Homo sapiens: one gene and its partner. The protein of the gene in region 1 interacts with the protein of each later gene in a pairwise test. Each region holds a gene or a part of one and is shown in the gene's direction. Other genes may lie near its edges. The genes, in order: BICDL2 and API5.

Evidence for each region.
Region 2: the proteins of BICDL2 (region 1) and API5 interact in binary tests that used the Homo sapiens proteins (3 or more experiments, as listed by UniProt).

Annotation. Positions count from the first base shown.
Region 1 is NC_000016.10:3,030,742-3,046,027, reverse strand, and holds the start of BICDL2 (BICD family-like cargo adapter 2), read left to right. Parts: upstream 1-9,083; 5' UTR 9,084-9,134; exon of another isoform or gene 9,135-10,501; 5' UTR 10,502-10,531; coding exon 10,532-10,813; intron 10,814-11,033; exon of another isoform or gene 11,034-11,130; intron 11,131-12,934; exon of another isoform or gene 12,935-14,531; coding exon of another isoform or gene 14,532-14,618; intron 14,619-14,877; coding exon 14,878-15,093; intron 15,094-15,215; coding exon 15,216-15,286.
Region 2 is NC_000011.10:43,315,681-43,330,644, forward strand, and holds part of API5 (apoptosis inhibitor 5), read left to right. Parts: intron 1-2,740; exon of another isoform or gene 2,741-2,802; intron 2,803-2,959; coding exon 2,960-3,121; intron 3,122-5,140; coding exon 5,141-5,234; intron 5,235-5,730; coding exon 5,731-5,796; intron 5,797-6,304; coding exon 6,305-6,456; intron 6,457-7,749; coding exon 7,750-7,956; intron 7,957-10,826; coding exon 10,827-10,931; intron 10,932-12,108; coding exon 12,109-12,198; intron 12,199-13,031; coding exon 13,032-13,213; intron 13,214-14,284; coding exon 14,285-14,378; intron 14,379-14,827; coding exon 14,828-14,884; intron 14,885-14,964. UniProt on the Homo sapiens protein: Antiapoptotic factor that may have a role in protein assembly. Negatively regulates ACIN1. By binding to ACIN1, it suppresses ACIN1 cleavage from CASP3 and ACIN1-mediated DNA fragmentation. Also known to efficiently suppress E2F1-induced apoptosis.

The DNA of each region.
Region 1 (15,286 bases):
CGGCCTGGGCACGCGGGGGTTTGGGCCCCTCTAGATGCCGGGAGCAGCGGCTGCTCCGCGACTGCACCCCTCTCCCTAAGTGCCGGACATTTAAATGCTGCAGCCACTGCGCGGAAGCCACAGCGCCTGCCAGTGCCGGGAGCCGGGGACCGGGGAGTGAGTAGGCGGGGGAGATCCGGGAAGCCGAGACCTGGGGGTCTGCGAGCCGCCTCCTCCCGCGCCGAGAGCACCGGGCTAGGAGGCCGGACAGGTGGGGAAGGAACTGGAGGAAGCGGGCGGGAGGCTTCCTGGGGAGGGCGGGTGGGCGAGTGTGAGTTAAACTGCTCAGTCTCGGAGCAGTTCAGGGGCAGCCGCCGGAGCTGCTCACAAAATAAACAGCGAGCAGGATGCGGAGCTGGAGATGCAAAGGCAAACACTGCGATCCCGCGCCCGCTCGCTGGGGCCGCCAGAACAAAACACCAAGGACTGGGAGGCTCAACCAGAAGTTTACGTTCTCACAGTTCTGGAAACTGGAAGGCCAAGATCAAGGTGCCTGAGGGGCTAGTTTCTCCGGATGCCTCCTCCTGGGCAGGCAGATGGGCGTCCTCTTGCTGTTTCCCCACACGGCCGTCCCCCTGCGCTTGCACACCCCAGAAGTATCGTCCTCTTTTGTTTTGTTTTGTTTTGTTTTGTTTTGCTTTTTTTGAGACGGAGTCTCGCTCTGTCGCCCAGGCTGGAGTGCAGTGGCGCGATCTCGGCTCACTGCAAACTCCGCCTCCCTGGTTCACGCCATTCTCCTGCCTCAGCCTCCCGAGTAGCTGGGACTACAGGCGCCCGCCACCACGCCCGGCTAATTTTTTTGTATTTTAGTAGAGACGGGGTTTCACCGTGTTAGCCAGGATGGTCTCCATCTCCTGACCTCGTGATCTGCCGGCCTCGGCCTCCCAAAGTTCTGGGATTACAGGCGTGAGCCACCGCGCCTGGTCATTGACCTCTTGTAAGAAGTCAATCATCGGGGCCACCCTAAAAGCCTCATTTTAAGTTAGTCACTTTTTTATCAGCTCTATCTCTAACTATAATCACATTCTGAGGTACTGGGGGTTAGGGCTTTAACATACAAATTCTTCTTCTCTCTCTGGTTTGTTTTTTTTGTTTGTTTGGTTGGTTTTGGTTTTTTTGTTTGTTTGTTTGTTTTGAGCCAGGGTCTCGCTCTGTCTCCCAGGCTGGAGTGCAGCAGTAGCATGATCATAGCTCACCGCAGCCTGGAACTCCTAGGCTCAAGCAATCCTCCTGTCTCAGCCTGTCAAGTAGCTGGGACAACTGGCCCAAGCCACCATGCCCATGTTTTTTCTTTCTTTCTTTTTTTTTTTTCTTTTTCTTTTCTTTTGGTAGAGACGGGGCCTCCCTGTGTTGCTCAGGGCTTTCTTGAACTCCTAGGCTCAACCATTTCTCCTGCCTCAGGCTCCCAAAGTGCTAGGATTACAGGCGTGAGCCACCATTCCTGTAATGGTCAACATAAGAATATTGACAGGGCACAATTTACTCCATAACAGATCCCATGTTTGTCATCAGATTGGCAAAATTTTAAAGTCTGACAATGCCAAGTATTGGCCAGGTGTGACCCAGATGAAATTCGTGCTCTAGCCAGGTGTGTGGTGACTCACACCTGTAATCCCAGCACTTTGGGAGGCCAAGGCAGGAGGATCCTTTGAGGCCTGGAATTTGAGGGAGACCCAGCCTGGGCAACATACTGAGACCGCATTTCTACCAAAAACGGAAAGAAAGAAACGGATGCTCTGCAGGGGAGGCAGCATTTGTTCATATAGAAATAAAATAAATAAATAAAAAGAAATTCACCCTCTGCAGATAGAAACATGTTTTGTGATTTACCCTATGTGCCAAATTTGGTTCATATTAGAGACCAATAAGGCCACGAACACACCAAGAGAATAAGAAGAGTTTGATTACTCAACGATGAGGCTTTCTGGGAGAGCAGAGTGGGCTCCCAGGCAGCTCTGAAAGTGGTTTAAGAGAGCAAGGAGGGTTTTTTTGTTGTTGTTGTTTTGTGTGTGTGTGTGTGTGTGTGTGTGTGTGTGTGTGTGTGTTTAATGGAGTCTCACTCTGTCGCCCAGGCTGGAGTGCAGTGGCACAGTCTGGGCTCACTGCAACCTCCACCTCCCGTGTTCAAGTAATTCAAGGAGGGGCTTTTATTATGGTTAGGGGATAAAGTGGGATGAGGGTCCCTTCCAACCAGCCAGGACTTTCCTAATTTAAATTTCTCTATAGAGTGAGGGAGAGGGCACCAGGGCCTTCAGATCAGCTTGCCCACATGTGGGCACAAGGAGAAGAGGTAGGCACGGGGCTTTAAAGCTGTCAGCTGTAAAACATCAAAAAGGGAGTCAGGCACTTTATTACCTAGTATAAATTAAAGCCTACGCTTTAGGCCAGGCGTGGTGGTTCATGCCTGTAATCCCAGCACTTTGGGAGGCCAACACAGGCAGATCACTTGAGCCCAGGCGTTCGAAACCAACCTGGACAATATAGTGAGACCCTGTCTCTACAAAAAATACACAAATTAGCTGGGAGTGGTGGTGCACACCTATAGTGCCAGCTACTTGGTAGACTGAGGCGGGAGGATCACCTGTGCCAGGGACAGTGAGGCAGCAGTGAGCTGGTACTGCACCACTGCATTCCAGCCAAGTGACAGAGTGAGACCCTGTCTTAAAAATACATAAGCTGGCCGGGCGCGGTGGCTCACGCCTGTAATCCCAGCACTTTGGGAGGCCGAGGCGGGCAGATCACGAGGTCAGGAGATCGAGACCAGTCTGGCAAACATGGTGAAACCCCATCTGTACTAAAAATACAAAAATTAGCTGGGTGTGGTGGCTCGCACCTGTGGTCCCGGCTACTTGGGAAGCTGAGGCAGGAGAATTGCTTGAACCCGGGAGGCAGAGGTTACTGTGAGCTGAGATCGTGCCACTGCCCTCCAGCCTGGGCGACAGAGCGAGACTCTGTCTCAAAGAAAGAAAAGAAAAAAGAAAAATGGGTCTTTGCAGACATAAGCTAAAGATCTCAAGATGAGATCATCCTAGATTTAGGGTGGGCCCTAAATTCAATGGCTGGCATCTTTATAAAAGAGGGAAATTTCAGTCATAGACTAAGAAGACCTAGAGGGGCAGGTCACGTGAAAGCAGAGGCAGTGACTGGACTGATGTGGCCACAAGACACAGAACACCAAGGAGCATCTATAGTCACCATGGCCCAGGGAGAGGCATGGAGTAGATTCACCCTCAGAGCCTCCAGAAGGAACCAACCCTCACTTCAGGCTTCTGGCCTCCAGAACTGTAATACAATAATTTTTCTGTTGTGTAAACCCAGTTTGTGGTTTTTTTGGTTCTCTTTCTTTGTTTGAGACAGGGTCTCGCTCTCTCATCCAGGCTGGAGTGCAGTGATGCAATCATGGCTCACTGCAGCCTTGACCTCCTGGGCTCAAGGGATCCTCCCACCTCAGCCTCCCAAGCAGCCGGGACTGCAGGCATGTGCCACTAATTATTCTTTATGTTTGTAGAGATGGGGTCTTGCTCTGTTTCCCGTGCTGGTGGATGTTTTGTTACATACATCAGCCCTAGGAAGCTAATACCTACCTCAATAAAGCTGAATTTTTTTTTTTTTTTTTTTTTTTTTTGAGATAGGGCCTTGCTCTGTCACCCAGGCTGGAGTACAGTGGCCCAATCTCAGCTCACTGCAGCCTCCACTTCCTGGACTAAAGTGATCCTCCTGCCTTAGCCCTGTGAGTAGCTGGGACTATAGGCACACAGCACTATGGCCTGCTAATTTTTGTATTGTTTGTAGAAACGGGGTTTTGCCATGTTGCCCAGGCTGGTCTCAAACTTCTGGCCTCAAGTTATCTGCCCGTCTCAGCCTCCCAAAGTGTTGGGATTACAGGCGTGAGCCACTGTGCTCAGCCAAAGCTGATTTTTTTTTTTTTTCTGAGACAGACTCTTGTTCTGTCACCCAGGCTGGAGTGCAGTGGCACATTCTCAGCACACTGCAACCTCTGTCTCCCAGGTTCAAGCGATTCTCCTGACTCGGCCTCCCAAGTAGCTGGGATTACAGGCATCTGCCACCACGCCCAGCTAATTTTTTGTATTTTTAGTAGAGAGGGCGTTTCACCGTCTTGGCCAGGCTGGTCTTGAACTCCTGACCCCATGATCCACCCACCTCCTCGGCCTCCCAAAGTGCTGGGATTACAGGCATGAGCCACCGTGCCTGCCCTGATTTTTTTTTTTTTTAATAAGTGGGAGAAAACACTTGGAAACATAAGCATACATCAAAAAAACAAGTTGCAGAACAATGAATTCAGTGTGAAATATTATATATAAAGGTTTTAAATGCTCCAAACAATACTACCTACTGTTCATGGACTTAGCATACGTCATAAAAGCCTGGAGGCACCTGGGTCTGGACCCAAGTTATTTCTACCAGACTGCTTCTGGGGAAGGGCAAGAGGAGAGTGGGGTTCTGCTGGCCTCTGGATGCCTAGCATAGACTCCCACGGCATTGTGAGGTCTGACAAGGCTTCCCCAGGGATGAGACCCCTCCTCAACTCCCAACCAAGACTCAGAACCCCCCAGGGCTCAGCGGGTGGATGGAAAGGCGGGGAGGGCATACCAAACTAAGCACCCTGGAAGCTGGCTTGTTTGGGCTGGAGAGCAGGTGAGGCTGGGTGATCATCCTTCCCTTCTTTTTTTTCTTTTTTGAAATGGAGTCTTGCTCTGTCACCCAGGTTGGAGTGCAGTGGTGCGATCTCAGCTCACTTCAACCTCTGCTGCCCGGGTTCAACTGATTCTCCTGCCTCAGCTTCTCAAGTAGTTGTGATTACAGGCGCGTGCCACCACGCCCGGCTAATTTTTGTATTTTGTTTTGTTTTGTCTTTTGTTTTTGTTTTTGTTTTGAGATGGAGTCTCACCCTGTCTCCCAGGCTGGAGTGCAATGGTGCAGTCTTGGCTCACTGCAACCTCCGTCTCCCAGGTTCAAGCGATTCTCATGCCTCAGCCTCCTGAGTAGCTGGGACTACAGGCGCCCGCCACCACACACGGCTAATTTTTTGTATTTTTAGTAGAGACGGGGTTTCACCATGTTAGCCAGGATGGTCTCAATCTCCTGACCTCGTGATCCACCTGCCTCGGTCTCCCAAAGTGCTGGGATTACAGGCATGAGCCACTGCGCCCAGCCAATTTTTGTATTTTTAGTAGAGATGGGGTTTCAGCATTTTGTCCAGGCTGGTCTTGAGCTCCTGACCTCGTGATCCACCCACCTCAGCCTCCCAAAGTGCTGGGATTACAGGCATGAACCACCGTGCCCGGCCAATCCCTTCCTTCTTAACCAGACATGTCCCAGCCTCCCCGGGCCTTCCCTGAGGTCACTCTGTCCCTCCTACTCATTTTTCTCCTGGGATCGGCAGGGAGCCTGGGGGTGAGGGGAGGGCTGAGGTCCCCTGCATGCTGGGTGGCCAGGACTCTTAGACCCAACAGGGAGATGGAGGCCAGGACTCCTGGGTCCAGAGGAGACTGAGGACCAGATTCAAATATTCAAAGCCAGGCACACTGGCTCATGCCTCAGATCCCAGCGCTTTGGGAGGCCAAGGCAGGAGGATTGCTTGAGGCCAGAAGTCGAGACCAGCCTAGGCAACGTAGCAAGACCGCATCTCTACAAAAAATAAAAAAGTTAGGCTGGGCGTGGTGGGTCACGCCTGTAATCCCAGCACTTTGGGAGGCCGAGGCGGGCAGATCATGAGGTTGGGAGATCGAGACCATCCTGCCTAACACGATGAAACCCCATCTCTACTAAAAATACAAAAAATTGGCCGGGCGTGGTGGCAGGCACCTGTAGTCCCAGCTACACGGGAGGCTGAGGCAGGAAAATGGCGTGAACCCGGGAGGCAGAGCTTGCAGTGAGCCAAGATCGTGCCACTGCCCTCCAGCCTGGGTGACACAGCGAGACTCTGTCTCAAAAAAACAAACAAACAAACAAAAAATAAAAAAGTTAGCAGGGCATGATGGCATCTGCCTGTTGTCCCAGTCACTCAGGAGGCTGAGGCAGGAGGATCGCTTGAGCCCAAGAGTTCGAGGCTGCTGTAAGCTATGATCATGCCACTGTACTTCAACCTGGGTGACAGAGTGAGACCCTATCTCCGAAAAAAACAAAAACAACACAAATTTCCCAAGAGTGATTGAGGCTGAGAGCTAGGCAAGCTGGGATGAAGGCTCTGCTATGTACCCACAGACAAATGACTTAGCCTCTCTGAGCTGGGCTCCTCACCTGTGAATGGCGTGACCTCATAGGGTTGCTCTGAGGATGAAATAGAGTATGACATGCAGGTGAGTCATCTCTGGTGGCCGCGCGGAGATCACCAGCAAGGACTAAGTGCTGGCACTTCACACTCATTTAATCCTCACACCTGGCCAGGCACGGTGGCTCACACCAGTAATCCCAGCACTCTGGGAGGCTGAGGCGGGCAGATCACCTGAGGTCAGTTGAAGACCATCCTGGGCAACACAGTGAAACCCTGTCTCTACTAAAAATACAAAAATTAGCCAGGTGTGGTGGCACACGCCTGTAATCCCAGCTACTTAGGAGGCTGAGGCAGGAGAATCGCTTGAAACCGGGAGGCAGAGGTTGCGGTGAGGCGAGATCTCACCACCGCACTCCAGCCTGGGGGAGAGAGCGAGACTCCATCTCAAAAAAAATCCTCACATCCCTATAAGCTAGGAACTATCATCCCCATTTTACAGATGGGGAAACTGAGGGCCGCAGAGGTTAATCAGCTGAAGGGCATAGGCACCCACATCTGGTATGTGGCCAACTGGATCCTGGACCGAAGCTATGTGATGCCAGCACCCATGGGCCAAGCACTTTGCTGTACTGTTTTATTGGTTCATTTCTGGTTTATAGGTCTACGCTCCCTCCCATGGCCCAGGTGGACTGTGAACCTTCTGGGAGTAGGGCTGTAATCACTTCATCCTGGGATGAGCTCAGCCTGGCAGGAGGCGCTCAAGATGTGCTACGTGTGGGTGTGAGTGGGGCCCAGGGTGACTGGCATTTGGAGGGGACACTGAGCTTCTATTTCCAGAGGGTCACATAGCAGCACCCAGGGGAGGCTGGGATGTCTTCAGTCCTCCAGTGGCTACCAGGCTGCTCCCACAGGTGCAGTGGGAGAAAGTGTCAGGCTTGCTGGGCAATGTGGCTGTAAGACAAATCTCTGGCTCCCCTACTCTCTGCTGGCAGAAAACCCTGTCCCAGCCCCAGGACCCAGGAGTCCCAGTTCCTAAGTCACCCCTCCAAGGAGTCCTTGCTCCCCTTTTCCCACAAGCCAGGAGTCCCAGCCCCCACCCTCCTCCTATTTTTCTAGAACCCAAGTAAGTAGCCCCCAGTCCCCCAAGACTCAGGAGTCCTGATCCCCAGCCAGAGGTGCACGGACCCAGCTGACACCAGCCAGCCAGAGCTGATGTGCACAGCCCCTTCTACCTCTGCACTCCGTGACGCCAGGTGAGTAGCTGGAAGTCAGCCGAGGAGCAGGTATTGCATCATGGATATTGGCAAATGCAACGAGCGAGGGCTATTGTTTTAGCCGGGGAGCCTGTTGTTAAACGCTTACCAGCACGCCACTGCTCCCAGCCTTCCATCTGTCCTGCTCTCCAGGCCAGGAGCCCCTGTCACGAGGCCCAGGGAGCCCTGGAGTCTGGAGATAAATCGTGACAAGACACAAGGCCATGGATGGGGCATCACTGCTGCCCAAGCCACCCTGGGTCCCCAGCCCCGGACCTTCCCATCTCCACACCAAAGCCCCTGTCCCAGACAAGAGCACGGTCCCCAGCTCTGCATAACTGAGGAACTGAGAACCCCAGGTGTGGAGCCACACGGACTCGGGCATGGCTCTGGGCAAGTCACTCTCACTGCCTGGGCTACAGTGTCCTTGTCTGCGGCATGGGAATCAGTAAAGAGCATGACCCTAAAGCCACACTTGTGCTGTTCACCTTCCAGTTCTGACCAGGGGACCCCAAACAAGGTGGAGGACCCCCCTCCGCCTCCGAGCCTCAGCTTCCTCATCTGTAAGATGGGGATGACAGCAGTTCCTCGTCATCAGGTCATCATGAAAGTCAACAAGTTGAGCCGGGGAGGTGGCTCACTCTGTAATCCCAGCACTTTGGGAGGCTGAGGTGGGCGGATCACGAGGTCAGGAGTTTGAGACCAGCCTGGCCAAAACATTGAAACACCATTTCTACTAAAAATACAAAATTAGCTGGATGTAGTGGTGCATGCCTATAGTACCCGCTACTCACCAGGCTGAGACAGGAGAATCACTTGAACCCGGGAGCGGAGGCTGCTGTGAGCTGAGATGGCACCACTGTACTCCAGCCTGGGCAAGAAGAGTAAAATTCCATCTCAAAAAAAAAAAAAAAGGTCAACAAGTTATGCCTATAAAAGAGTTTACTTGACCAGAAGCAGAGGCTCATGCCTGTAATCCCAGCACTTTGGGAGGCCGAAGCGGGAGGATTGCTTGAATCCAGAAGTTTGAGACCAGCCTGGGCAACATGGTGAAACCCCACCCCTACAAAAAGTACAAAAATTAGCTGGGCATGGTGGCATGTACCTGCAGTCCCAGCTACGGGGGAGGCTGTGGTGGGAGGATCGCTTGAGCCTGGGAGGACGAGACTGCAGTGATGGTGCCACTGCACTCCAGCCTGCGTGACAGAGCAAAATCCCATCTCTAAAAAATAAAAAAGAGTTTACTTAGCAGAATGCTTAAGATGTCAGATTCGGTGTTGTTGTCATTGCTAATAATTTCCTGCCCCACAGGGCAAGGCAGTCGTGACGGGAAAGGAGCGGAGGCTACCTCAATGTAGGATCTGCAAACAGTAGATGCTCAGTTAACTGGCCGGGCCATTTGCAACCACAGCAGGTTGGGCCAGTGCCCCCCACCCAGGTGGAAGCGACTCTCCCTCGACCCCGCCCGGCCATTCAGGCAGCCAGGGAGCGCCCCGGCCCCTCCCGCGGCCCCGCCCCTTCACCTGTGTTGGCCGCACACCTGGAGCCGCCTCCGGAAGAGGGGACCGGAGACCGCGGGGACCTCGGAGGGAGCCCGGCGGCTTCGGGTGAGAGCCTGGGGGACGCCGAGGGCCGGGCCCCTCGAGCCTGGGGAGGGCCTGGTCCGGCCGCGTCGGCGGAGAAGGTGGGGGAGCCGGGGCGGGGGCAGGGGAACCGGGATCGCCGGGGAACCGGGGGCGCCGGCAGGAACTCAGCCGTCGGGGGTGAGCCCAGCCGCTTCTCTGGGCTTCCGACGCCTGGGGCTGGAGGCCCCAACACCTGGGCAGCTAGGTGCGGAAGGGGAGGGGGAGCGGTCTCCAGGTCCCTGTCTCTCGCGTGGAGGGGGGCGGGGGAGCGGGGCCCGCGAGGGCCAAGTCAGGGAGGTCCCCGGGAGCGGCCTGGGGGCGGCTGGGCTGGGACCACCGTGACACTCACGTCCTGCGAGCAGGGCTGCACATGGACACCGGGCGAGAGGAGGAGGGAGAGCACGGGTGTGTGTGCCTAGTGGGTGGTGAGCCCCCGGAGGGCTGGGGCTGGTAAAGCTGTTGTGTCGGGCCCTCTGACCCGAGCCCCTGAACCCCAGCCCCTGAGCCGCCCTAGGGGAGCCCAGGGCTCCCGTCCCCAGGGGCGGACCGGGAAGTAAACAGAAACTCCGAGCCGCGCTGCGGCCGGGCGGCCGGCACAACCTGTTACCTCGCCCTGTCCTGGGCCCCACGCCAGGGCCCTGGGAAACTGGGGGGCTGAGGGTCAGGGCTCCTGAGTCCGGAGGGGTGGGGGCATGAATGCCTGAGTCCCGTGGAAAATGGGGACTGGGGTGGGAATCCTTGGTGGGGGACATTGGAGGTGGGGACCTCTGAGTCTGGAGGGTGGAGTCAAAGCACCTGCTCAGGAGGTAGCAGGAGAATGAGGGCGAGAGACCCGGGAGGTCAGGGGCTGGGATCTGGGCTTCTGGCAGGGGAAGGAGCTGGATTCCTGGGGGCGAAGATACCTCAGTTCCCAAGCCTTAGGGTCCTGCATTCCTGAGAGAAGAGGCTGGGCCCAACTCCAACTGCTGAGTCCCTGAGAACCTGGGTTCTGGGAACTGTCTCAGATGGCGAGGGGCTACAAGCCAAACTGCTGGGTTCTGGGAAGAGAGGGGACAGGGAGCAGAGGTGGCCTGTGGCCCTGGAGCACTGGAATGAGCTTTCCTGGGGACAGAGATTGTCTGGCAGAGGCCAAAGGCTGGGCAGGTCATTTCCTTCTGCTTCCTGCCTCAGTTTACCCCAGGGACATTAACGGAACTGGGTAGCCAAAACACAGGTCATTAACCCTTTGTGGCCCAGGAAGCCCTGGCTGCAGGACCGGGCAGGCTGGCAGCAGGTGGAGAATTCCTGGAGGGCCAGGTGCTGGGCGGAGGGTGAGCCCCTGTCAGGCTGCAGAGTAGAGTGTCCCGCAGCCACCTGTCCCCGCAGATGCTGCAGGTGACATGAGCTCTCCAGATGGGCCCAGCTTCCCGTCCGGGCCGCTCTCAGGGGGCGCCTCTCCCAGCGGCGACGAGGGCTTCTTCCCCTTTGTGCTGGAGCGGCGGGACTCATTCCTGGGAGGGGGCCCAGGGCCTGAGGAGCCCGAGGACCTAGCCTTGCAGCTGCAGCAGAAGGAGAAAGACCTGCTGTTGGCCGCGGAGCTCGGCAAGATGCTTCTGGAGCGAAATGAAGAGCTGCGGCGGCAGCTGGAGACGCTGAGCGCCCAGCACTTGGAGCGTGAGGAAGTGAGCTAGCACTGGACGGGGTGGGTGGGTGGGTGGGCAGGGGAGGACGGGTGGGCCTGGAGAGGACAAGGGAAGGGAGTCAGGCAAGGGAAGGAGAGAGGAGCTGGGGAGGACAGCCGGGCGAGGGGGGCACTTTGGAACAGGTCAGAGCTGGGCCCAGTCCCCCTGGCAGTGTTGCCCAGTGGCAAAGAACATGAACTCTGGGTGCCGGGCACAGTACCTCACACCTGTAATCCCAGCACTTTGGGAGGCCAAGGCAGGAAGATCACTAGCCCAGTGTTGGAGAACAGCCTGGGCAACGTAGTGAGACTCTGTCTCTACAAAAAATAAGAAAATTAGCTGGATGTGGTGGTGGCACCTGTAGTCTCAGCTACTCAGGAGGCCGAGGCAGGGGGATCAATTGAGCCCAGGAATTTTAGAGTTTGAGGCTGCAGTAAGCTATGATTCTATGATCCACTGCACTACAGCTTGAGCAACAGAGTGAGATCCTGAAAAAAAAAAAAGGAAGGAAGGAAGGAAGGGGAAGGAAGGAAGGAAGGAAGGAAGGAAGGAAGGAGAGAGAAAGAAAAGAAAAAAAGGAAAGGAAAGGAAAGGAAAAAAGGCATGAACTCTGAGGATTAAGACCTGGATTCAGGCCAGGCATGGTGGCTCACACCTGTAATCCCAGCACTTTGGGAGGCTGAGGTGGCTGGATCACTTGAGGTCGGGACTTCAAGACCAGCCTGGCCAACATGGTGAAACCCCGTCTCTACTAAAAATACAAAAAAAATTAGCCAGGCATGATGGGGTGTGCCTGTAGTCCCAGCTAATTGGGAGACTGAGGCAGGAGAATCACTTGAACCTGGGAGGCAGAGGTTGCTATGAGCCAAGATCATGCCACTGCACTCCAGCCTGGGTGACAGAGCGAGACTGCATCTCAAAAAACAAAAACAAACTGGGTTCAGACCCTCGTCCAGCTGTGTGACCCTGGGTCAGCTGCTGGCCCTCTCTGGATCTTGGGTCCAGCTCCTCAGCAGTATAGCGGAACACCAGGCGACAGTCATGGGTGTCCACTCCTTGCCTGGCACTGGGCTGAGTGCTTTCCATGACTCTCCATTGATTCTTGCCCAGCCCAATGAGGTAGGAACAGTTCCCTCTGCCCAGGTTCTATTTTTGGCCCACTTCTTGCTCTGGGGCTCACATCTGGTCTCCTGAACACCCTCCTTTATCTGCTGCGTCGGCCCCAACCACTGCCCTGAGCCTGACCTGGGTAGCTAACCCTCTCCACCAGGCCACCTAGTGGGCATCTCAACACAAGTGGCACTTGATTCCACGCACTCGATTCCATGCCCCCATCACCTGCTGTCCCCATCCTCGCCTTCCCAACCTTGAGGACCAGAGCCTGTGCACCTCCTTGGACTCTTTCTCTATTTTTTTTTTCTTTTTTTGGAGACAGGGTCTCCCTCTGTCACCCAGGCTATAGTGTGCAGTGGTGCAATCATAGCTCACTGGAACCTCAACTTCACGAGCTCAAGCAATCCTCCCATCTCAGCCTCCTGAGTAGTTGGGACTACAGGCACACATGCACCACCATACCTGGCTAATTTTTGCATTTTTTGTAGAGATGAGGTCTCACCATGTTGCCCAGGCTGGTCTCAAACTCCTGGGCTCAACCAAACTGCCTGCCTCAGCCTCCCAAAGTGTTGGGATTACAGGTGTGAGTCAATGCGCTCAGCCAACCTTTCTTGAGTGAACAAATTCCCCCCAATATCCGCAAGCCCTTTTGATTCTTCTAAACTCCAACCACCCACTGGTCGGCTCTGCAGCCTCCAAGCTGATCACAGATCACAGCCTCCATCCCTTCTGCCACAGACACTCCAGCCACCTTCTCCTGAGTCCCCAGCTTCCACTCTTTTATTATTGTTGTTATTTACATGGAGTCTCGCTCTGTCGCCCAGGCTGGAGTGCAGTGGTGCGATCTTGGCTCACTGCAGCCTCTGCTTCCTGGGTTCAAGTGATTCTCTCACCTCAGCCTCCCAAGTAGCTGGGATTCCAGGTGTGCGCCACCAAGCCCAGCTAATTTTTGTATTTTTAGTAGAGACGGGGTTTCACCATATTGGCCAGGCTGGTCTTGAACTCCTGACCTCAGGCGATCCACTTGCCTCAGCCTCCCAAAGTGCTGGGATTATAGGTGTGAGCCACCGTGCCCAGCCCCCAGCTTCCACCTTTGACCCCTGGAGCCCGTTCTCTAAGGGACAGCCCAGGACTTTCAAAAACTGCAAATCAGATCATTTCACTCCTCAACCAGAATCTCCCCCTCACACTTAGAATGAAACCAAAACCCTTCCCCAGGGCCTAAAAGTCCCAGAGAACTGGGCTCCTCCCCGACCTCATCACAGCAGCACCACCCCTTTCTCCCCTCCTCCAAGAAGGGCAGCCGAACCACCCTCTCCCCGACAATGAGGGCTCTTTTCATTTCCTCCAAGAACTCACGCTTGTTCCCTCAGGAACTTTGCACTTGCTGTTCCTTAATGCCTAGCCTTCTTTCTGGTGGCTCTTCTTGTCCTGCAGAAGTCGACTCAAACATGACGTCCTCCTTGAAGGACCCTCCACCCCCACCCCACTCCTTACTCTCTATCATTTCCCGGGTCTCTTTACAGCCCTTACTGTCTCCCTGAAACTACCTGGCTCCGGCATGTGTCCATGCCCTCTGGACTCTAAGCTGCTTGAAGCAGTGAACTTGGTGGTCTCACGTGCCACTGACAGCAGACCCCAGAACAAGTGGAGCTCAGGAAATGTGGGAGGATTGATAGCAGTGTGGGTGGATAGACTTAGAGATATTGTGTCCAGGCCACAAGGCATCAGCAGAGCCGAGCATCAGCCAGGACAATCTGACCTTGAACCTGACAGCTTAATCCTGAAGCTGTGTTGCCTCTGCAGTATTCGGTTAAGAGTTCTGCTGCCTGAGTTGGCATCCCTGCTTTGTGAAGTTATTGTGTGTCGGCTGGGCACGGTGTCTCATGCCTGTAATCCCAGCACTTTGGGAGGCCGAGGAGGGTGGATCGCTTAAGGCCAGGAGTTCAGGACCAGCCTGGCCAACATGGTGAAACCCCGTCTCTCCTAAGAAAACAAAAAAATTTGCCGGGCAGGGTGGCGCACGCCAGTAATCTTAGCTACTTGGGAGGCTGAGGCAGGAGAATCTCTTGAACTTGGGAGGCGGACATTGCCGTGAGCTGAGATAGTGCCACTGCGCTCTAGCCTGGGCCAAAGAGTAAAGATCTGTCTCAAAATAAATAAATAAATAAAAAATAAAAACAACAATAAATGACTGTGTGTCCTTAGGCAAGGCACTTAGCAACTCTTGAGCTTGTTCCATCTGTAAACCCAGGACGTTAGTGATTCTCCCTCTAGTGGATGAAATGAAGCAATGCAGATAGAGCCCTAATGCAGGGTACCTGCGAGTCGCTGCAGCAGCTGTGGCAATTGTCACCTTCATCCAGGCCCATCCCGCTTTGAGGGCCTAGAGAGAGTGGGCCAGAGGTTAACCCCCGATTCATCTGCCTCCCCACGCTGGGCATCTGGGTGTGCCAGGGCATTCCCCCGCTGGTCAGACAGGTTTTTGGGCCAGGGCGGGGCTGACCAGGGTTAATTAGAGGGAACTGGCTAGGAGGAGCTGGGGAGGGGGCTGGGCAGAGTCCAGGCCTCCAGAGCCCCTGGGACACAGCAGGTGTGTGCTGCCATGGGCCGGGGCTTGAACTCTGCCAGACTCAGGCGCCAAAAACGGCGCTTGCGACCTCAGGTCCAGAAGCCCCGGCAGCAGCTGGAGGTGAGTGGTCATCAGAGATCCCCCCACCCCAACCCTTGCCCCGGGCCCACGCGTCCTGTCTGCTCGGAACCTTCCCTCTAAATCTCTGGGTCTTGCTCACGCTTCCTCCCTCACTCTCCCTTGCTTTTGTGTCTGTCTTGGACACAAGGCCCCCTTAGGCTTTCTCCCTAGGTGTCTGTCCCTCCATCGCCATCTCTCTGTGCCTGCCCAGTCTCATCGGTGCCTCTCTGCCTCTGTCCCTCTGCCCTGGCCCCCACAGCGGCTCCAGCAGGAGAACCATGAGCTCCGGCGAGGCCTGGCAGCCCGAGGAGCCGAGTGGGAGGCCCGGGCCGTGGAGCTGGAGGGGGACGTGGAGGCCCTGCGGGCCCAGCTTGGGGAGCAGCGCTCAGAGCAGCAGGACAGTGGGCGAGAACGGGCACGGGCCCTCAGCGAGCTCAGCGAGCAGAACCTCCGGCTCAGCCAGCAGCTGGCTCAGGTGGGATGGCCCTGACCCCAGGGCCCTGGACAAGGTTGGGGAGGATGCCTGGGTCCCCAGCGGGGAGTAGGTGCATTGGGCTTGGTGCTGAGGCTCCTCTGTCCCTCTTTCCACCTCCCCAGGCCTCCCAGACTGAGCAGGAACTTCAGAGGGAACTGGACGCCCTTCGGGGACAGTGCCAGGCTCAGGCACT
Region 2 (14,964 bases), on another chromosome or scaffold:
CTCATGTAACTGCCATGTTCTGCCTATGCGTTCATCCTGCCTTTCCCCCACTCTGCCTCTGCTACTCCTTCAGGTCTCACTCTTCTCTTGTGTGCTCCTTTACCTTTCTGATCTCCTTTTCCACTGTACTCTGCCCAGGGCTCCTGACTAGCCATAATAGAGCAAGCTGTGGCCCACCATTATTTAAAATTCTGTTTCAAATTATTATGAATTTACTTACTTTAAATATAGATACTTAATTTTATATTATGTAGTCAAAATCTTAAAAGTTAAAAAATGTATCCGACACCTGTTAAAGGACCATGGCAGTGGGGCTGATTAGATCTGTATAATGCTGAAACCCTGATTCCTCCTGTTCTCTCAATCATTGAGTATACTAGCTTTGCAGGGTTGGCGTGTAGGCTTCTTGGACTTTTATTTCATGAAATAACCACTCTTGTAGTAGGGTTTTTTGTATGATTAAGCTAAAACCACTGACCAACCAAGTTCGTAATCCCTCAAAAATATGTGGAAATATTTATTTCACTTCTCTGAGCCCTAGTTTCCTCATCTAAAAGATAAGAATAGTAGTAACACCTATTGTGATATAGACAAGGAATCACTCAGTCCCTGGTAGACCTTCAATAAATATTGTTAATGATTCCTTTTTATTTGATTCCAGATTTAATATTTTTTTCTTGGCAAAAGGAAGTTTTGTTTTAAGCAGGGTTTTTTTTTTTTCATTTAATTTTGGACAGTGTAAGGAGTTTCTTCAAATGGCTTTATGAGTAAGTTTGAGTTAAAGAAAATTAGATTTGTGATACCCTGCAAAAAGTAAGGGTGTCAGAACAAACTTTGATTTTATGAAGCCTGCCTAGAAGTCTGAGGCAAACCACAGGAATGTAAAGTGGTAGAGAAGTCAGCATGATTTCTTTTTTTAATGTTTGCGGTGAAAAGTATGTCATATACCTTTCTTTCTTTGAGACAGGGTCTTGCTCTGTCAGGCTGGAGTGCAGTGGCGCGACCACAGCTTACCACAGCCTCTAACTCCTGGGCGCGACCATGGCTTACCACAGCCTTTATCGCCTGGGCTCAAGTGATTCTCCTCCCTCAGCCTCTCCAGTAGCTGGGACTGCAAGCACACACCACCATGCCTGGTTAATTTTATATTTTTTGGAGAGACAGGGTCTTGATGTGTTTATAATACACTTTTCAGTGATGACTCCTGAAGACTCATATATCTGCATTTCATGAAGAAGTTAACCTTATTCACAGAAATTTCTGTTATTTGGGAGTTGTTCTGTAACTTTGCATCCTGCTTTATTTTTTCACTTAACATAGCATTATCAACAAAAAAGAATCACTGTAAAATAAATTTGGTAATTCTGTAGTTCATTGGATATTTATTGGTCATTCCCCGCTTGATGGCATGAAGTAAGCTCATGTGTCTAAAGCACTTAGAACACTCCTTATACATAATAAATACTATACTGTGTATATGTTTGGTCAAGATTATAATTTTTAAGTTGTTTTTCCAGTTACTAAGTTTTATTCATATGTCCAAACAATATATATGTGTAGTCTTTCTGTATTTGTTACTGTTATTTACCATCTTTATCAGTGTCATTTCATAAAAGGACTGGTTTGGAGGCAAGTACTTAAGGAGGATTGGGAACTTATTGATTCCTCCCATTATGAGTATTTGAGGGAGAGCACCTGTGATTTTTTTTTTTAAGGAAACATGAGCTTTGAGTGTATTGTTCCAATAAAAGGTTTAAACATGTGACATTAGAGTCCGTCTTAATCCAAAATTGTCTGGCTATATGGAGTGAATTGTCATGGCTTTCATATACTGCTATGAGGTAAAATTAAACTGCACTTCCTAACATTGCTGGAATTGCTAAATTTCTGGAATGTATTCCCTTCACCTTCTTCAAGGTGCTAATTAGAAACAGGTAAATTTTTGTTTAAGTAAATACAGTGCAATTCTTTGTGAATTCTATGGTATTCATGATGATTTATTTATTTACTTGTTTAAGATAGAGTCTCATTCTGTCACCCAATCTGGAATGCAGTGGTGCGATCTCAGCTCAGTGCAACCTCTGCCTCCTGGGTTCAAGCGATTCTCCTGCCTCAGCCTCCTGAGGAGCTGGGATTACAAATGTCTGCCACCACACCCAGTTAATTTTTGTATTTTTAGAGAGAGGGAGTTTCACCATGTTGGGCAGGCTGGTCTGGAACTCCTGAGCTCAAGTGATTGCCCACCTCGGCCTCCCAAAGTGTTGAGATTACAGGCATGAGCCACCACACCTGGCCATCATTACAATTGTTTTGTTTGTTTGTTTGTTTTGTTTTGTTTTGTTTTTTGGAGACAGAGTCTCACTCTGTCATCCAGGCTGGAGTGCAGTAGTACGATCTCAGCTCACTGCAACCTCCGCTTCCCGGACTCAAGCAATTCTCCTGCCTCAGCCTCCCGAGTAGCCGGGATTACAGGCGCACACCACCACGCCTGGCTAATTTTTGTGTTTTAGTAGAGACGGGGTTTAACCATGTTGGCCAAGCTAGTCTTGAACTCCTGACCTCAGGTGATCCACCCACCTTGGCCTCCCAAGGTGCTGGGATTACAGGCGTGAGCCACCACGCCTGGCCCATTACAAATTTTTTAAGCATGATACAGTCACATGGCCAGAGTTAATAATCACTAGAATGAAGAAGTATTGGCATATTAACAAACACATTTGCTTTTTCCACTTAAAATTAGACTCATCCATCTCCCCCAACTCAAAAATGAAACAAAGATGGAGGGAGAACGGAATTGGGAAGGTAAGTGTCAGTTTGAGCAGTAAACCTCCCAAAATCAGCTTTATTTCTTAGCCTGTGTAAAAATTTAAAGCACACTCTAACATGTTTGTTATGGTCTTTTACTTTGCTTCCCATCCTTCAAAATCATGTGTCTTTCCTGCTTTATTTTTTATTTCAGCATAAAGATGCCTATCAAGTGATATTGGATGGTGTGAAAGGTGGTACTAAGGAAAAGCGATTAGCAGCTCAATTTATTCCGAAATTCTTTAAGCATTTTCCAGAATTGGCTGATTCTGCTATCAATGCACAGTTAGACCTCTGTGAGGATGAAGATGTATCTGTAAGTTTATGAATGACACTTCATAGCAATCTTTCAGATGTTTCTGTATGTGGCTGATACAATTGGAGTAGCAATCTGATATATCAGAGTACACAATAAAATACTATGGTATGGTCTGGCATGGCATCACACCCAGGCTTAAATTTACATATGATAAAGTGTATTAGCCTTTTTCAACACCTTTAAATTATGAAAAATGCATAGAATCTCAAAATACTTAGTTTCGCTTATCATTTATCCACTGTTAAAAATGGGTTGTGGCTCACATCTTGTTTCATAGATTGTTATTCATTGTGCATATGAAATTAGACTGTTTTTAATCAATTTGTGCTTACTTGGATATTTAAATTATTAAGTGTTATATCATAAAATGTAGTTTCACTACCCTTATATATTTTGCATGGCAGAAAAATGGTATGTGTAATAAGTGAATAGGATTACTAGATTAAAAAGAAATAGTTTTTGTTTTTTGGTTTTTGGGGGGTTTTTTGGAACAGAATTAACCAGTAATATTTCTGGCTGCTGACACAGGTTCCTAAGAATATTCAGCCGTTAGCTCTTGTCTTTTCAGATGAAACAGCGAATTGCCAACATTTCATGCAGAATTTGCTGGATATAAACCCTATACTTTTTTTGCTTTTTTAATAGAAACAGGGTTTCACTCTGTTGCCTAGACCAGAGTGCAGTTGCACATCCATAGCTCACTGCAGCCTTGAACTCCTGGGTTCATGCATTTTTTTCCACTTTAGCCTCCCAAGCAGCACAGACCACCGTTCCCAGCTGATTTTTAATTTTTTTGTAGGGTCTTGCCATGTTGTCCAGGCTGGTCTCAAACTCCTGGCCTCAAGCTATCCTCCCACCTTGGCCTTCTGAAGCATTGGGATTACAGGCGTGAGCCACCTCATCTGGCCCGCTGTACATATTTTATGTAAAAATCGAATAAGCCAAGATCAGTATTTGGAATTAAACATGCAGAATATAGCCACAAATGTTGTATTTAGTAGTCAATACTGAAAATTCTAAAGTAAACAGTTACTAGGTATAACATTGCCACAGTAGCCATTTTTTAGGAATACTATATTATAAGCCCATAGGTAGTAAAAACCTAACAGTTGCATATAATTAGCATGTAAATAGTTGTTTATAATCTCAAATCTGTCTCCTTCAGCGAGACATTGTTAACATCCCTTTTTATATTTTATTCTGTGTAACTTGAAGATTAAATTGGAGCAAATTCTCTCTTTTTTTTTTTTTTTTTTTTTGAGAAGGAGCCTTACTCTATTGGCCAGGCTGGAGTGCGGTGGTGCAATCTTGGCTCACTGCAACCTCCGCCTCCCTGGTTCAAGCGATTCTTCTGTCTTAGCCTCCCAAGTAGCTGGGACTATAGGCGTGTGCCACCACGCCTGGCTAATTTTTGTATTTTTAGTACGGACAGGGTTTCACCATATTGGCAAGGCTGGTCTCAAACTCCTGACCTCGTGATCCACCTGCTTCAGCCTCCCAAAGTGCTGGGATTACAGGTGTGAGCCACCACGCCCGGCCAATTGGAGCAAATTCTTTTTAAAACTGCTAGAAATCTGCTGTTTCATATTTTTGTGACTCGTATGCCCCTAATGATGGCTTCTCTGTGGTTTTAGTTTTCTTAAAAAGTTGAGTTTGCAGCTGGGCATGGTGACTCATGCCTGTAATCCCAACACTTTGGGAGGCTGAGGTGGGAAGATCACTTGAGCCCAGTAGTTCGAGAACAGCCTGGGCAACATAGGGAAATCCGCCTTTAAAATTAGCCAGGCGTGGAGGCTTGCGTCTATAGTCCTAGCTACTAGGGAGGCTAAGGCAAGAGGCTCTCTTGAGCCTAGAAGGTCAAGGCTACATTGAGCCATGGTTGCACCACTGCACTCCAACCTGGGCAACAGAGCAATACCTTGTCTTTAAAAAAAAAAAAAAGAAAGAAAAGAAAAAGCTGTTTGTTATTTTAAAGGTGATAGTATTTGGTTAATTTTTGTTTGAAATCATGCCCAGATTCGACGTCAAGCAATTAAAGAACTGCCTCAATTTGCCACTGGAGAAAATCTTCCTCGAGTGGCAGATATACTAACGCAACTTTTGCAGACAGGTAAGGGATTTTATTATTACCTTTTTCTCTAAATATATATCTTCTTTCTGAAATGTTGACTCTGTTTTTAGGTTTTAAATGGGGTGCAGGAGAGCTGGAGGTCCTACCTCTGATAGAGATTAAATTTCCTACTTTCATTCAGTAGTTAAAGTGTAATGATTTCTGGTTATCTAATTCCTGGTGTTGTTTTGTTTTTAATTCCGTTATGAAGGTGTAATGACTAGATTCTTTTGGGCATTTTGATATATCATAATTTTTCCCCCAATTTCCTGTAGTTTCATAATTGTAGCATCTTAATAAAAGTTTTTCAGGCATGCCAGATCGGGTTCTCAACTTACAAGGAACACGTATCTTTTTGGTACTTGAGGGAATGGCTTAAGTTATAAGTTTCCTGTCAATGTAACCTTGAGAAACTAAGTTGAATCAAGTTTGAAACTGAAGCAGATGATATTTTAAATTTGTTTTATATTCATTATGCCACTTTTTCTTTATCCAGATGACTCTGCAGAATTTAACCTAGTGAACAATGCCCTATTAAGTATATTTAAAATGGATGCAAAAGGTAAGGCCAGTTCTTATTCTGAATTGTGTTTGATGTCTTACAGAATCACAAAGTTAGGTGTTACTCATTAAGAATAAACTCTAGGGTTTACCCAGAGTTCTATTTCATAAAAATTCTAAGTATTGTGAAAAAAGTCTCCTTAGGTCAAGATGTTTATGACTAGAAAAACGAGCAGAAATAACTGCAAAAACAGATCACGTTTTTCCATTAGAAATCTGTTGGAAGAACTCCTTTTGACACTTTCAAGAAATTCTTCCAAAATACCTGGGTTTTATTATTAGTAATGATAAAAAAGGAAAGTCATGCTTAAGCTGACTATGTCTTCATGAAGAAAGCACTCTTATGGTTCAGGCTGTAGAAATTTCAGACTACTTTTAACTAGTAATGAGGATGATATTTGGGAAGTTCATTAACTTATTTGAGAAGAAATACTATAAATTGAGTTAAATGGGAAAACACCATTACACTATAGAATTGACTTGCTACAGGCAACTATTTTGTTTTGCAGGGACTTTAGGTGGGTTGTTCAGCCAAATACTTCAAGGAGAGGACATTGTTAGAGAACGAGCAATTAAATTCCTTTCTACAAAACTTAAGACTTTACCAGATGAAGTCTTAACAAAGGAAGTGGAAGAGCTTATACTAACTGAATCCAAAAAGGTGAGCTTTGGTCTTCATTTGGTGGAAATTCTCTAAAGCAAAAGAGCATACTTGACATTGGCAGTATTCGTCAATGTTATGTGTGGCTTGTGTATAAAATGATATATCATATATCCCATTGGAACCACCATAGAACTTCTAAGTTTTTCTTAGATTGAATTTAGCACTTTTGTCGGTGGTAATGATGAATCAATTTGGTAATTTAAAGGAATCTGATTACATTTAAACTTTTCGTGGTAGTGTCCTTAAAATTTGTGCAACCTCTGCAAATCACCTCCTTCAGGAAACTTTCCCTAAGTCCTACCCCTCCCTTCCATTTTAGGATACTCTCTCATAGTATTCTAAATTATTTCAAAATGAAACATCACATCAAAATGACCTGTTGTCACCTTAGCCCTTGACACTATCTGCTCTTCAAGGGTGAGACCATGCTTGTCTTTGCTCCCAGCATCTAGCATAGTTGTAGACGCTAAGATTGGCAAGGTGCGTCACAATTAACTTTTCACTCATCTTAATGTGCCAAAGTTTGGGAATAGTTTACTTTTTTAATATGTTACAGAAGATTCAGCATTTTATCTAAAGCATGTGATCACTGTTATGGTTCAGGCTTTAGAAATTTCAGACTACTACTACCCACTTCCTTATTGATAAGATTATTTTTCAGTGAGAAAAAAGTAGATCTTTAGCTGGGAGTATCAGACTATTTTACCTATGCCCCAGCTTGTAATCTGGTAGAGTATGTCGTGATTGTGAGCTTTTTTGGTCCATGAATAGAAAGATTTAGACCCACTGATATGGAAGATTTAACATGAGACTTGCAAGGTGACCTATTTTGTATACAACAATTACCATATTAATATGAATTAGGCTGCTTTTAAATATAGGATACAATCTGATTCAACAGTTTGCTACAGAATTTTTCCAACCATTTTTTAAAGTCACTCCCCTAAATAGCCAATTTTTTTAATTTTTTTTTTTTCTTAACTGCTCTCCCATGAAATTTTAATGCCACATATACACTGTATATCTGTTTATGGTACTACATGTATATCTGTGCTTTGTACGTAAAAAAGTAACATTTTCTAAGAACCAATTTTTGCCCCCTTGGAGAATGCGTGGTTTACACTGAAGCTCAATTGACTGAAGCTAGAAGTTGCCTTTTCGTCAGTATTTTGGAAGCATTAATAACAAACTGACTTTAGTAACTGAAATAAATTAGCTATTCTCTTTCAGTGTTGATCTGTCCCATTCAAATGATGAACATACTCTTATTCTGAATTGTCTCTTTTCCAGGTCCTAGAAGATGTGACTGGTGAAGAATTTGTTCTATTTATGAAGATACTGTCTGGGTTAAAAAGCTTACAGACAGTGAGTGGAAGACAGCAACTTGTAGAGTTGGTGGCTGAACAGGCCGACCTAGAACAGACCTTCAATCCCTCGGATCCTGACTGTGTGGACAGGCTCTTACAGTGCACTCGGCAGGCAGTACCCCTCTTCTCTGTGAGCTCTTTATTTTTACACACCCGGTATTAGCTATATATATATTTCCATAAATACTCACTTTAACATTCCCCTTAAACCTTTCCAGTAGTGTCCCTTATCTGAAATGCTTGCTTGGAACCAGAAGTGTATTCAGATTTTTGAATATTTGCATTGTGCCTGGTTGAGCATCCCTAATTCAAAAATCCAAAACCTGAAATGCTTTAATGAGCATTTCCTTTGAGCGTGATGTTTGAGCATCACATTGGTGCTCAAAAAGTTTTGGATTTTGAAGCATTTCAGATTTGGGATTTTCAGATGAGGGATGCTTGGTCTGTGTTTATGAAGGCCACAGTGGTGTTGGTGAGAACCCAAAGCAGCAAGAAACTTTCTTGAAAGAAAGAATTTTTTTTTTCCTTTGAGACAGAGTCTTGCCCTGTCACTCATGCTGGAGTGCAGTGGCACGATCTTGGCTTACTGCAGCTTCTACCTCCCAGGCTCAAGCCTTCCTTCCATCTCAGCCTCCCAAGTAGCTGCTACTACAGTCATGCACTATCACACTCGGCTAATTTTTGTGTTTTTTGTAGAGACGGGGCTTCCCCATGTTGCCCATACTAGTCTTGAACTCCTGAGCTGAAGCAGTCTGCCCACCTTGGCCTCCCAAAGTGCTGGGATTACAGGTGTGAGCCACCATGAGTGGCCAATAAATTTTTTTTAAGTCTTCCTAGAGACTTTTTTTGAAAGTCATGAGAATTTTGCATTCTGTCTCAGGCTTTGTGTTTCCTGAGGCCATGCATCTTCTGGGATGTGCATACATTCATTTGAAAAACACAATTTAAAGGAACTATCCTAGAGCAGGCGTGGTGGCCCGTCCCTGTAATCCCAATCCCAGCACTTTGTGAGCCAAGGTGGGAGTATCACTTGAGGCTGAGTTCAAGACCAGCCTGGGCAACAGAGCAAGACCTTGTCTCTACAAAAAAAATTAAGTAATAGAATTATCCCTTTTGAGAAATGTGCAGTCTGAAAATCCAACACTAAAAGATGTCCACAATTCATTTATTTATTTATTTATTTATTTATGAGACAGAGTCTCGCTCCATCCCCCAGGCTGGAGTGCAGTGGCATGATCTTGGCTGACTGCAACCTCCACCTCCCAGATTCAAGCAATTCTCGTGCCTCAACTTCCCGAGTAGCTGGGATTACAGGCAAGCACCACCACACCCAGCTGATTTTTTGTATTTTTAGTAGGGATGGGGTTTTGCCATGTTGCCCAGGCTGCTCTCGCACTCCTGAGTTCAGGCAATCCACCTGCCTCAGCCTCCCAAAGTGCTAGGATTACAGGCATGAGCCACCATGCCTGGCCATGCCCCAAATTTGACCAGAGAATCAAGGAAGAGATCAAAATGTATAGATGTTCCAATGCTCCAGATGACTTTGCAGTAAAGTATATAAGGGGTCTTCAAAAAGTTCCTGGAAAATGCATATTATGAAAGAAAAAAAAAAAACTACGCATGGATTACAAAACATTTTTCACCAAAATAAACTTGTACTTATAACATGTCTGAACAGGATATAGTTTGAGGAACTAAGAAGGGTCAGACATCAGTTTGAAAAGAGCACCTATCAGAGCAACATGAATTCTGCTAAAGTTGAAGCAAGAACAAATATCGAATTTATGGTGAAGCTTGGTGGAAGAATAGTGAAATCATTGATGCTTTATGAAAAGTTTATGGAGACAATGTCCCCAAAGAAATCAACAGTTTACAAATGGATCACTCATTTTAAGAAGGGACAAGACAACGTCAAAGCCCATTGCAGCAGATCAATTTGCGAGGAAAAATTTAATCTTGTTTATGCCCTAAATGAAGAAGACCGATGATTAATAGCAGAAACAATAGCCAACATCATCGATATCTCAGTTGGTTCAGCTTATTCAATTCCGACTGAAAAATTGAAGTTTAACAAACTTCCTACTGATGAGTGTCAAAACCATTGCACTCAGATTAGCTGCAGACAAGAACAGAGCTTTCAGTGGAAATTGTAAACAAGTGGGATCAAGATCCTGAAGCATGTCTTTGAAGAATGGGAACAGGAGGTGAAACATGGCTTTAGCAGTGCAATTCTGAAGACAAAACACAGTCAAAGCAATGGCTGCCAGGAAGTGAAAAGGGCCCAGTCCAAGCAAAAAGAGACCAGTTAAGAGGAAGGGCTATGGCAGTTTTTTGGGATGCTCAAGACATTTTGCTGGTTGACATTCTGGAGGGCTAAAGAATAATGTCTGCTTATTATGAGCTTGTTTTGAGAAAGTTGGCCAAAGATTGAGCAGGAAAACGCCTAGGAAAGCATCACCAGAGTTCTCCACCGCCACAGTGCTCCTGCTCATTCCTCTCATCAAACAGGGACAATTTTTTAAGAGTTTTGATGAGGAATCATTAGGCATCCACCTTAAAGTCCTTATTTGGGCCCTTCTGATTTCTTTTTGTTGCCTAATCTTAAAAAACATCTTTAAAGGGCACCCACATTTCTTTGGTTAATAGTATAAAAAAGACTGCATTGACATGGTTAAGTTCCCAGGACCCTCAGTTGTTCAGAGATGACTGGTATCATTACCTGCAAAAGTGTCTTGACCTTGATGGAGCTTATGTTGATAAATAAAGTTTATATTTTTTATTCTTTATCTTTTTATTCCATTTTTCCATGAACTTATTGAAGCCCCTTCGTAGATCACCTATTGAGGTTATATCTGGGGCATGCTGGGGTGTGCACTATATCGTATTTGTAGTCAGAATACTTGATGCTGTAGCGCTCAGCATTTATTGAATGAAATTCTGCTATAATATTTGAGCGAATATTTGTTTTTCGACAATGCATTTTCTTTGGATTTCTTACAGAAAAATGTCCATTCCACAAGGTTTGTGACATATTTCTGTGAGCAGGTTCTCCCTAACCTCGGTACCTTGACTACCCCAGTGGAAGGTCTTGATATACAGTTGGAGGTAAGCAAAAATTTCAGCTTTAGCACTGATAAGGCATTCTTATATTTTAACAAAAATGTAAACCACTAACTTAGATCCGATTTCTAAGGGAGCAGTTTAAATGTCTGGTAATGGCCAGCCAGTAATCTCCCTAGACCAGAATTAATTGCATTAGGACTGCTTCATGGATTCAATTAAAGTTTGCTGCAATGGGAAAGCCTTACCTGTAGTTTTATTATAGTCAGTCTCTACTTTTGTAGCCTTAATATTTTTAAATAAGGTGTTTAATTCATTCATTTCTATCCATAACTGACAGAGCCAATTTTAAACTGGATTAACACAAAATATCCTTTATTCCTTCTTCAATAGAATTCACTACCCCTCCCAACTTTGTATCTCAACTGTAATGTATGTAAACATTTTTTCACAGCATCTGTAATACTTTACATTTGTTTATAATCTCTCCCTACATTTAATCTGATTCACCTCTGTATCCCCAGAATCTGGCACAAAACTTGATTTTGAATCAAGCACCCAATAGTGATTATTGAATTGGACTGAAATATGGAAATGCGTGTGCCATTTCCCTCATGGGTCTTTGGGATAGAGAAGAATCTCACTGTGCACTGACAAGGTAGTTTGCTTCAAATGTGCTGGGCTAGGCCCATCAGACTGGGATTGGGAAATGCAGGAATGAACCTTGAGAATAGTGGTCATTACCAATATTTTGAGTAAGTATCCAGAGACTAAATTTAACAGGAAATGAGGCCCACCTTAACCATGAGTAATTAGTTCTTAGCTGTTGAGAGTTCTTACTAAGTGTGTCTTTATAGTTAATATATTTATCATTTTTGCCTTGCAATTAGCACAATCATTAACCTGTAGCAGAAAGTGTCGTATGTATTATTTTCCATACTTCTTCTCACAGATATATTGGAAATCATGGGATCTGGGTTTTAGGGTCTGCCCTGCCACTTACACCCTGTGACTTTGTCGAGTCACATAATCTCTGACCTTTACTTTCCTTCACAGTAAAATGTTGGGCTGCATCTATCTCTAAGGTTTTCTTCCATTTCAAATGTTATGATTCTGTGAAAACATAATTGAAAATAAAGTCTTAAATCGTTATCTAGAATTACTCTCATTTCATAACCCTTGCTTATTCAAAAAAACAGTAATAGTGAATTGTGTGTTTTAGGTATTGAAATTGTTGGCGGAGATGAGTTCATTTTGTGGTGACATGGAAAAACTAGAAACAAATTTAAGGAAACTATTTGATAAGTTATTGGTAAGAACTTTTTCCTTTCCTTATGGGATAGTCAGTATATAGCTCAAAGTCTAATTTATTATTAATTTCTAGATTACAAGAACCAGTTTTTGAAATTTCAATTAAACAATAATCCTAATAAGTATTGTTAGCTTCCTAGGCCACATGTTGTTGTCTACTTTGTTTTAATCTTGGTGTTTCTTATAATTAGGGAGAAAATAGGCCATCTGATAAAATCATTATCAGCATCACTGAGTGATTTTCTTATTTGATGTATTTGTATAACTAACACAGTGATAAGCATTAGGTCCTTAGCATGAATTGAGTCATCAACATCTGGCACTCGTCCAGATGTAACTTACTGGGTTGTTATAGCACTGATACTGAATGCCATTGGCAGTACTTCACTTGTAATGAGTCAGTACTTAAACAATATGGACTTACGTTCAGAAAATATTTTTGTAGTAAGCATAGTATAGTTGTTAAGAGCATCAGCATTTGATGTCAAATCTAGATTGAATTCTGACTCTTTAGTTTATTAACTTTGTTACCATGGGAAGGTTACCCTAACTCTCAGAGCATCAGTGCCTTTATCTGTAAGTGCCTAATAAATGATAGCTACATTAATCTTCATTATTAATAATAGCAGCTGTAACAGCAGCTGTAACAGGTTAATATGGAGCGTTGACAGGCTAGAGCATTGATCCAGTAAGTAAAAAAGAAATCCAAATGTCTGGTTTTGGTAGTTTTTAATGCTCCATGCCTTAAAAACATGCACTGTAATTCCCTGAATATCTGTTTATAATTTGAATATGTAGAACAGATTGCAAAATCTGTATATTTTTCTCTCTTAGGAATACATGCCCCTCCCTCCAGAAGAGGCAGAAAATGGAGAGAATGCTGGTAATGAAGAACCCAAGCTACAGTTCAGTTATGTGGAATGTTTGTTGTACAGTTTTCACCAGTTGGGCCGAAAACTTCCAGATTTCTTAACAGCCAAACTGAATGCAGAAAAGCTCAAAGATTTCAAAATCAGGTGATATATGATTGAGGTGGCTCAATCCTTGGCAAAGGTGGTAGCTATCCTGAAGTTCCTTGGGTTTTGCTTTTGTTCTATGAGAGCTCCCCATCCTGCCTTACCCCAGTGATACAGATTGGAGGGTTCAGAAAATGGGCATGTTTGTAAACATATGACAGAAATGAGCCAGGCATGGTGGCTCACGTCTGTAATCCCAGCACTTTGGGAGGCCAAGGCAGGAGGGTTGCTTGACACCAGGAGTTTGAGACCAGCTGGGCAACATAGTAAGATCCTGTCTCTATAAAAAATAACTTTAAAAAAATTAGCGGAGTGTGGTAACACACCAGTAGTCCCAGCTACTTGCAACACTGAGATGGGAGGCTCACTTGAGCCCAGGAGCTCGAGGTTACGGTCAGCTGCAGTCATGCCTCCGCACTCCTGTCTGGGCGATGAGATCATGTCTCTGAAAAAAGAAACAGTAAAAGTAAAATTTAAAAAAAATTAAAAGACAGAAATGACTTAACAAATCCATGGGGGGTAAAGGACTCTAGCTCTTCCTACTTGTTTTATGATCTTGGGCAGGTACCCTAACCTCTCTTGGCTCCCCCAAATTTTTCTCAGTTGTTAAGTGATAATAGTACCTACCTCATAGAGTTGTAAGAATTTAATAAGACAATGAATGTACAGCTTTTAGCATGGTGCCTGGCAAATAGTAGGTATTAGTAAACTGTAGCTGTTGTTATTAATAATACCTTAGTGTTACTGGAGAAGCAGCACTGGAGAAGTCAATGTAAATAGTTTTCACAAAGACACTGCTTATTGAATTGTTCCATTAACAAATTCACATTTTAAATTTTGAAATGCTTGAGCCATGTGTTACCTGTTACTGTCCTGTACTGTGTGGTAAGGCAGAAGTTTGATACTTGATGAAGCTCTTAATCAGAAACAAGCAACTTAAAATTCTCTTCTTTAATTTACTGGTCATGTAACCATTTCTGCACTTAGGATCATTTTGCTGTAGTATAAGATTGAGTTTAAAAACAAAATTGAAGTGATGAATTGCTAATTAACAAATACATTTTCATTTAGGCTGCAGTACTTTGCACGGGGCCTGCAAGTTTATATCAGACAACTTCGCTTAGCTCTCCAGGGTAAAACGGGTGAGGCCTTAAAAACAGAAGAGGTAAGAATACTGGCTCACATTTCATAAACTGCTAGTTCCATACCAAACTATATAGACTTGTGTTGGGAGTTTTTCATTTTCCCTTATCTCACCTAATTTAACAGTCTTCATCCCAGTCCTAATGAAATATTTTAGATTTTTATTATGTTCCTATAACTTAAACTGATTTATTTTAAAACAACTTCTATGTGCATGTGACCTTACTCATTTTTTAGCTACATTCTAACCTGTCAAGGGAACACAGATTATTTGCTTTCTTTGCTACATCTAGATTTGTTTAGAGTCAAGCAATAGGAATACGCATTATCTATAGATTTAAACCAAGGAATTCTGTAAAGACTGTAGAGGTGATTCTGATAGAAGTGTAATTACTCTAGTTCTATGACAGAATGGATTATGCCTCATAGAAGTTATTGGCAATTTGTCTTAATTTTCCTTTCCCTTTGTAGAACAAGATTAAAGTCGTTGCATTGAAAATAACAAACAATATCAATGTTTTAATCAAGGTAAGTCTGTAATACCAAGTGACATTTCTGCAGTTACCATAAAATCATACATTTATTTATTTAAAAGTTTTGCATAAGAT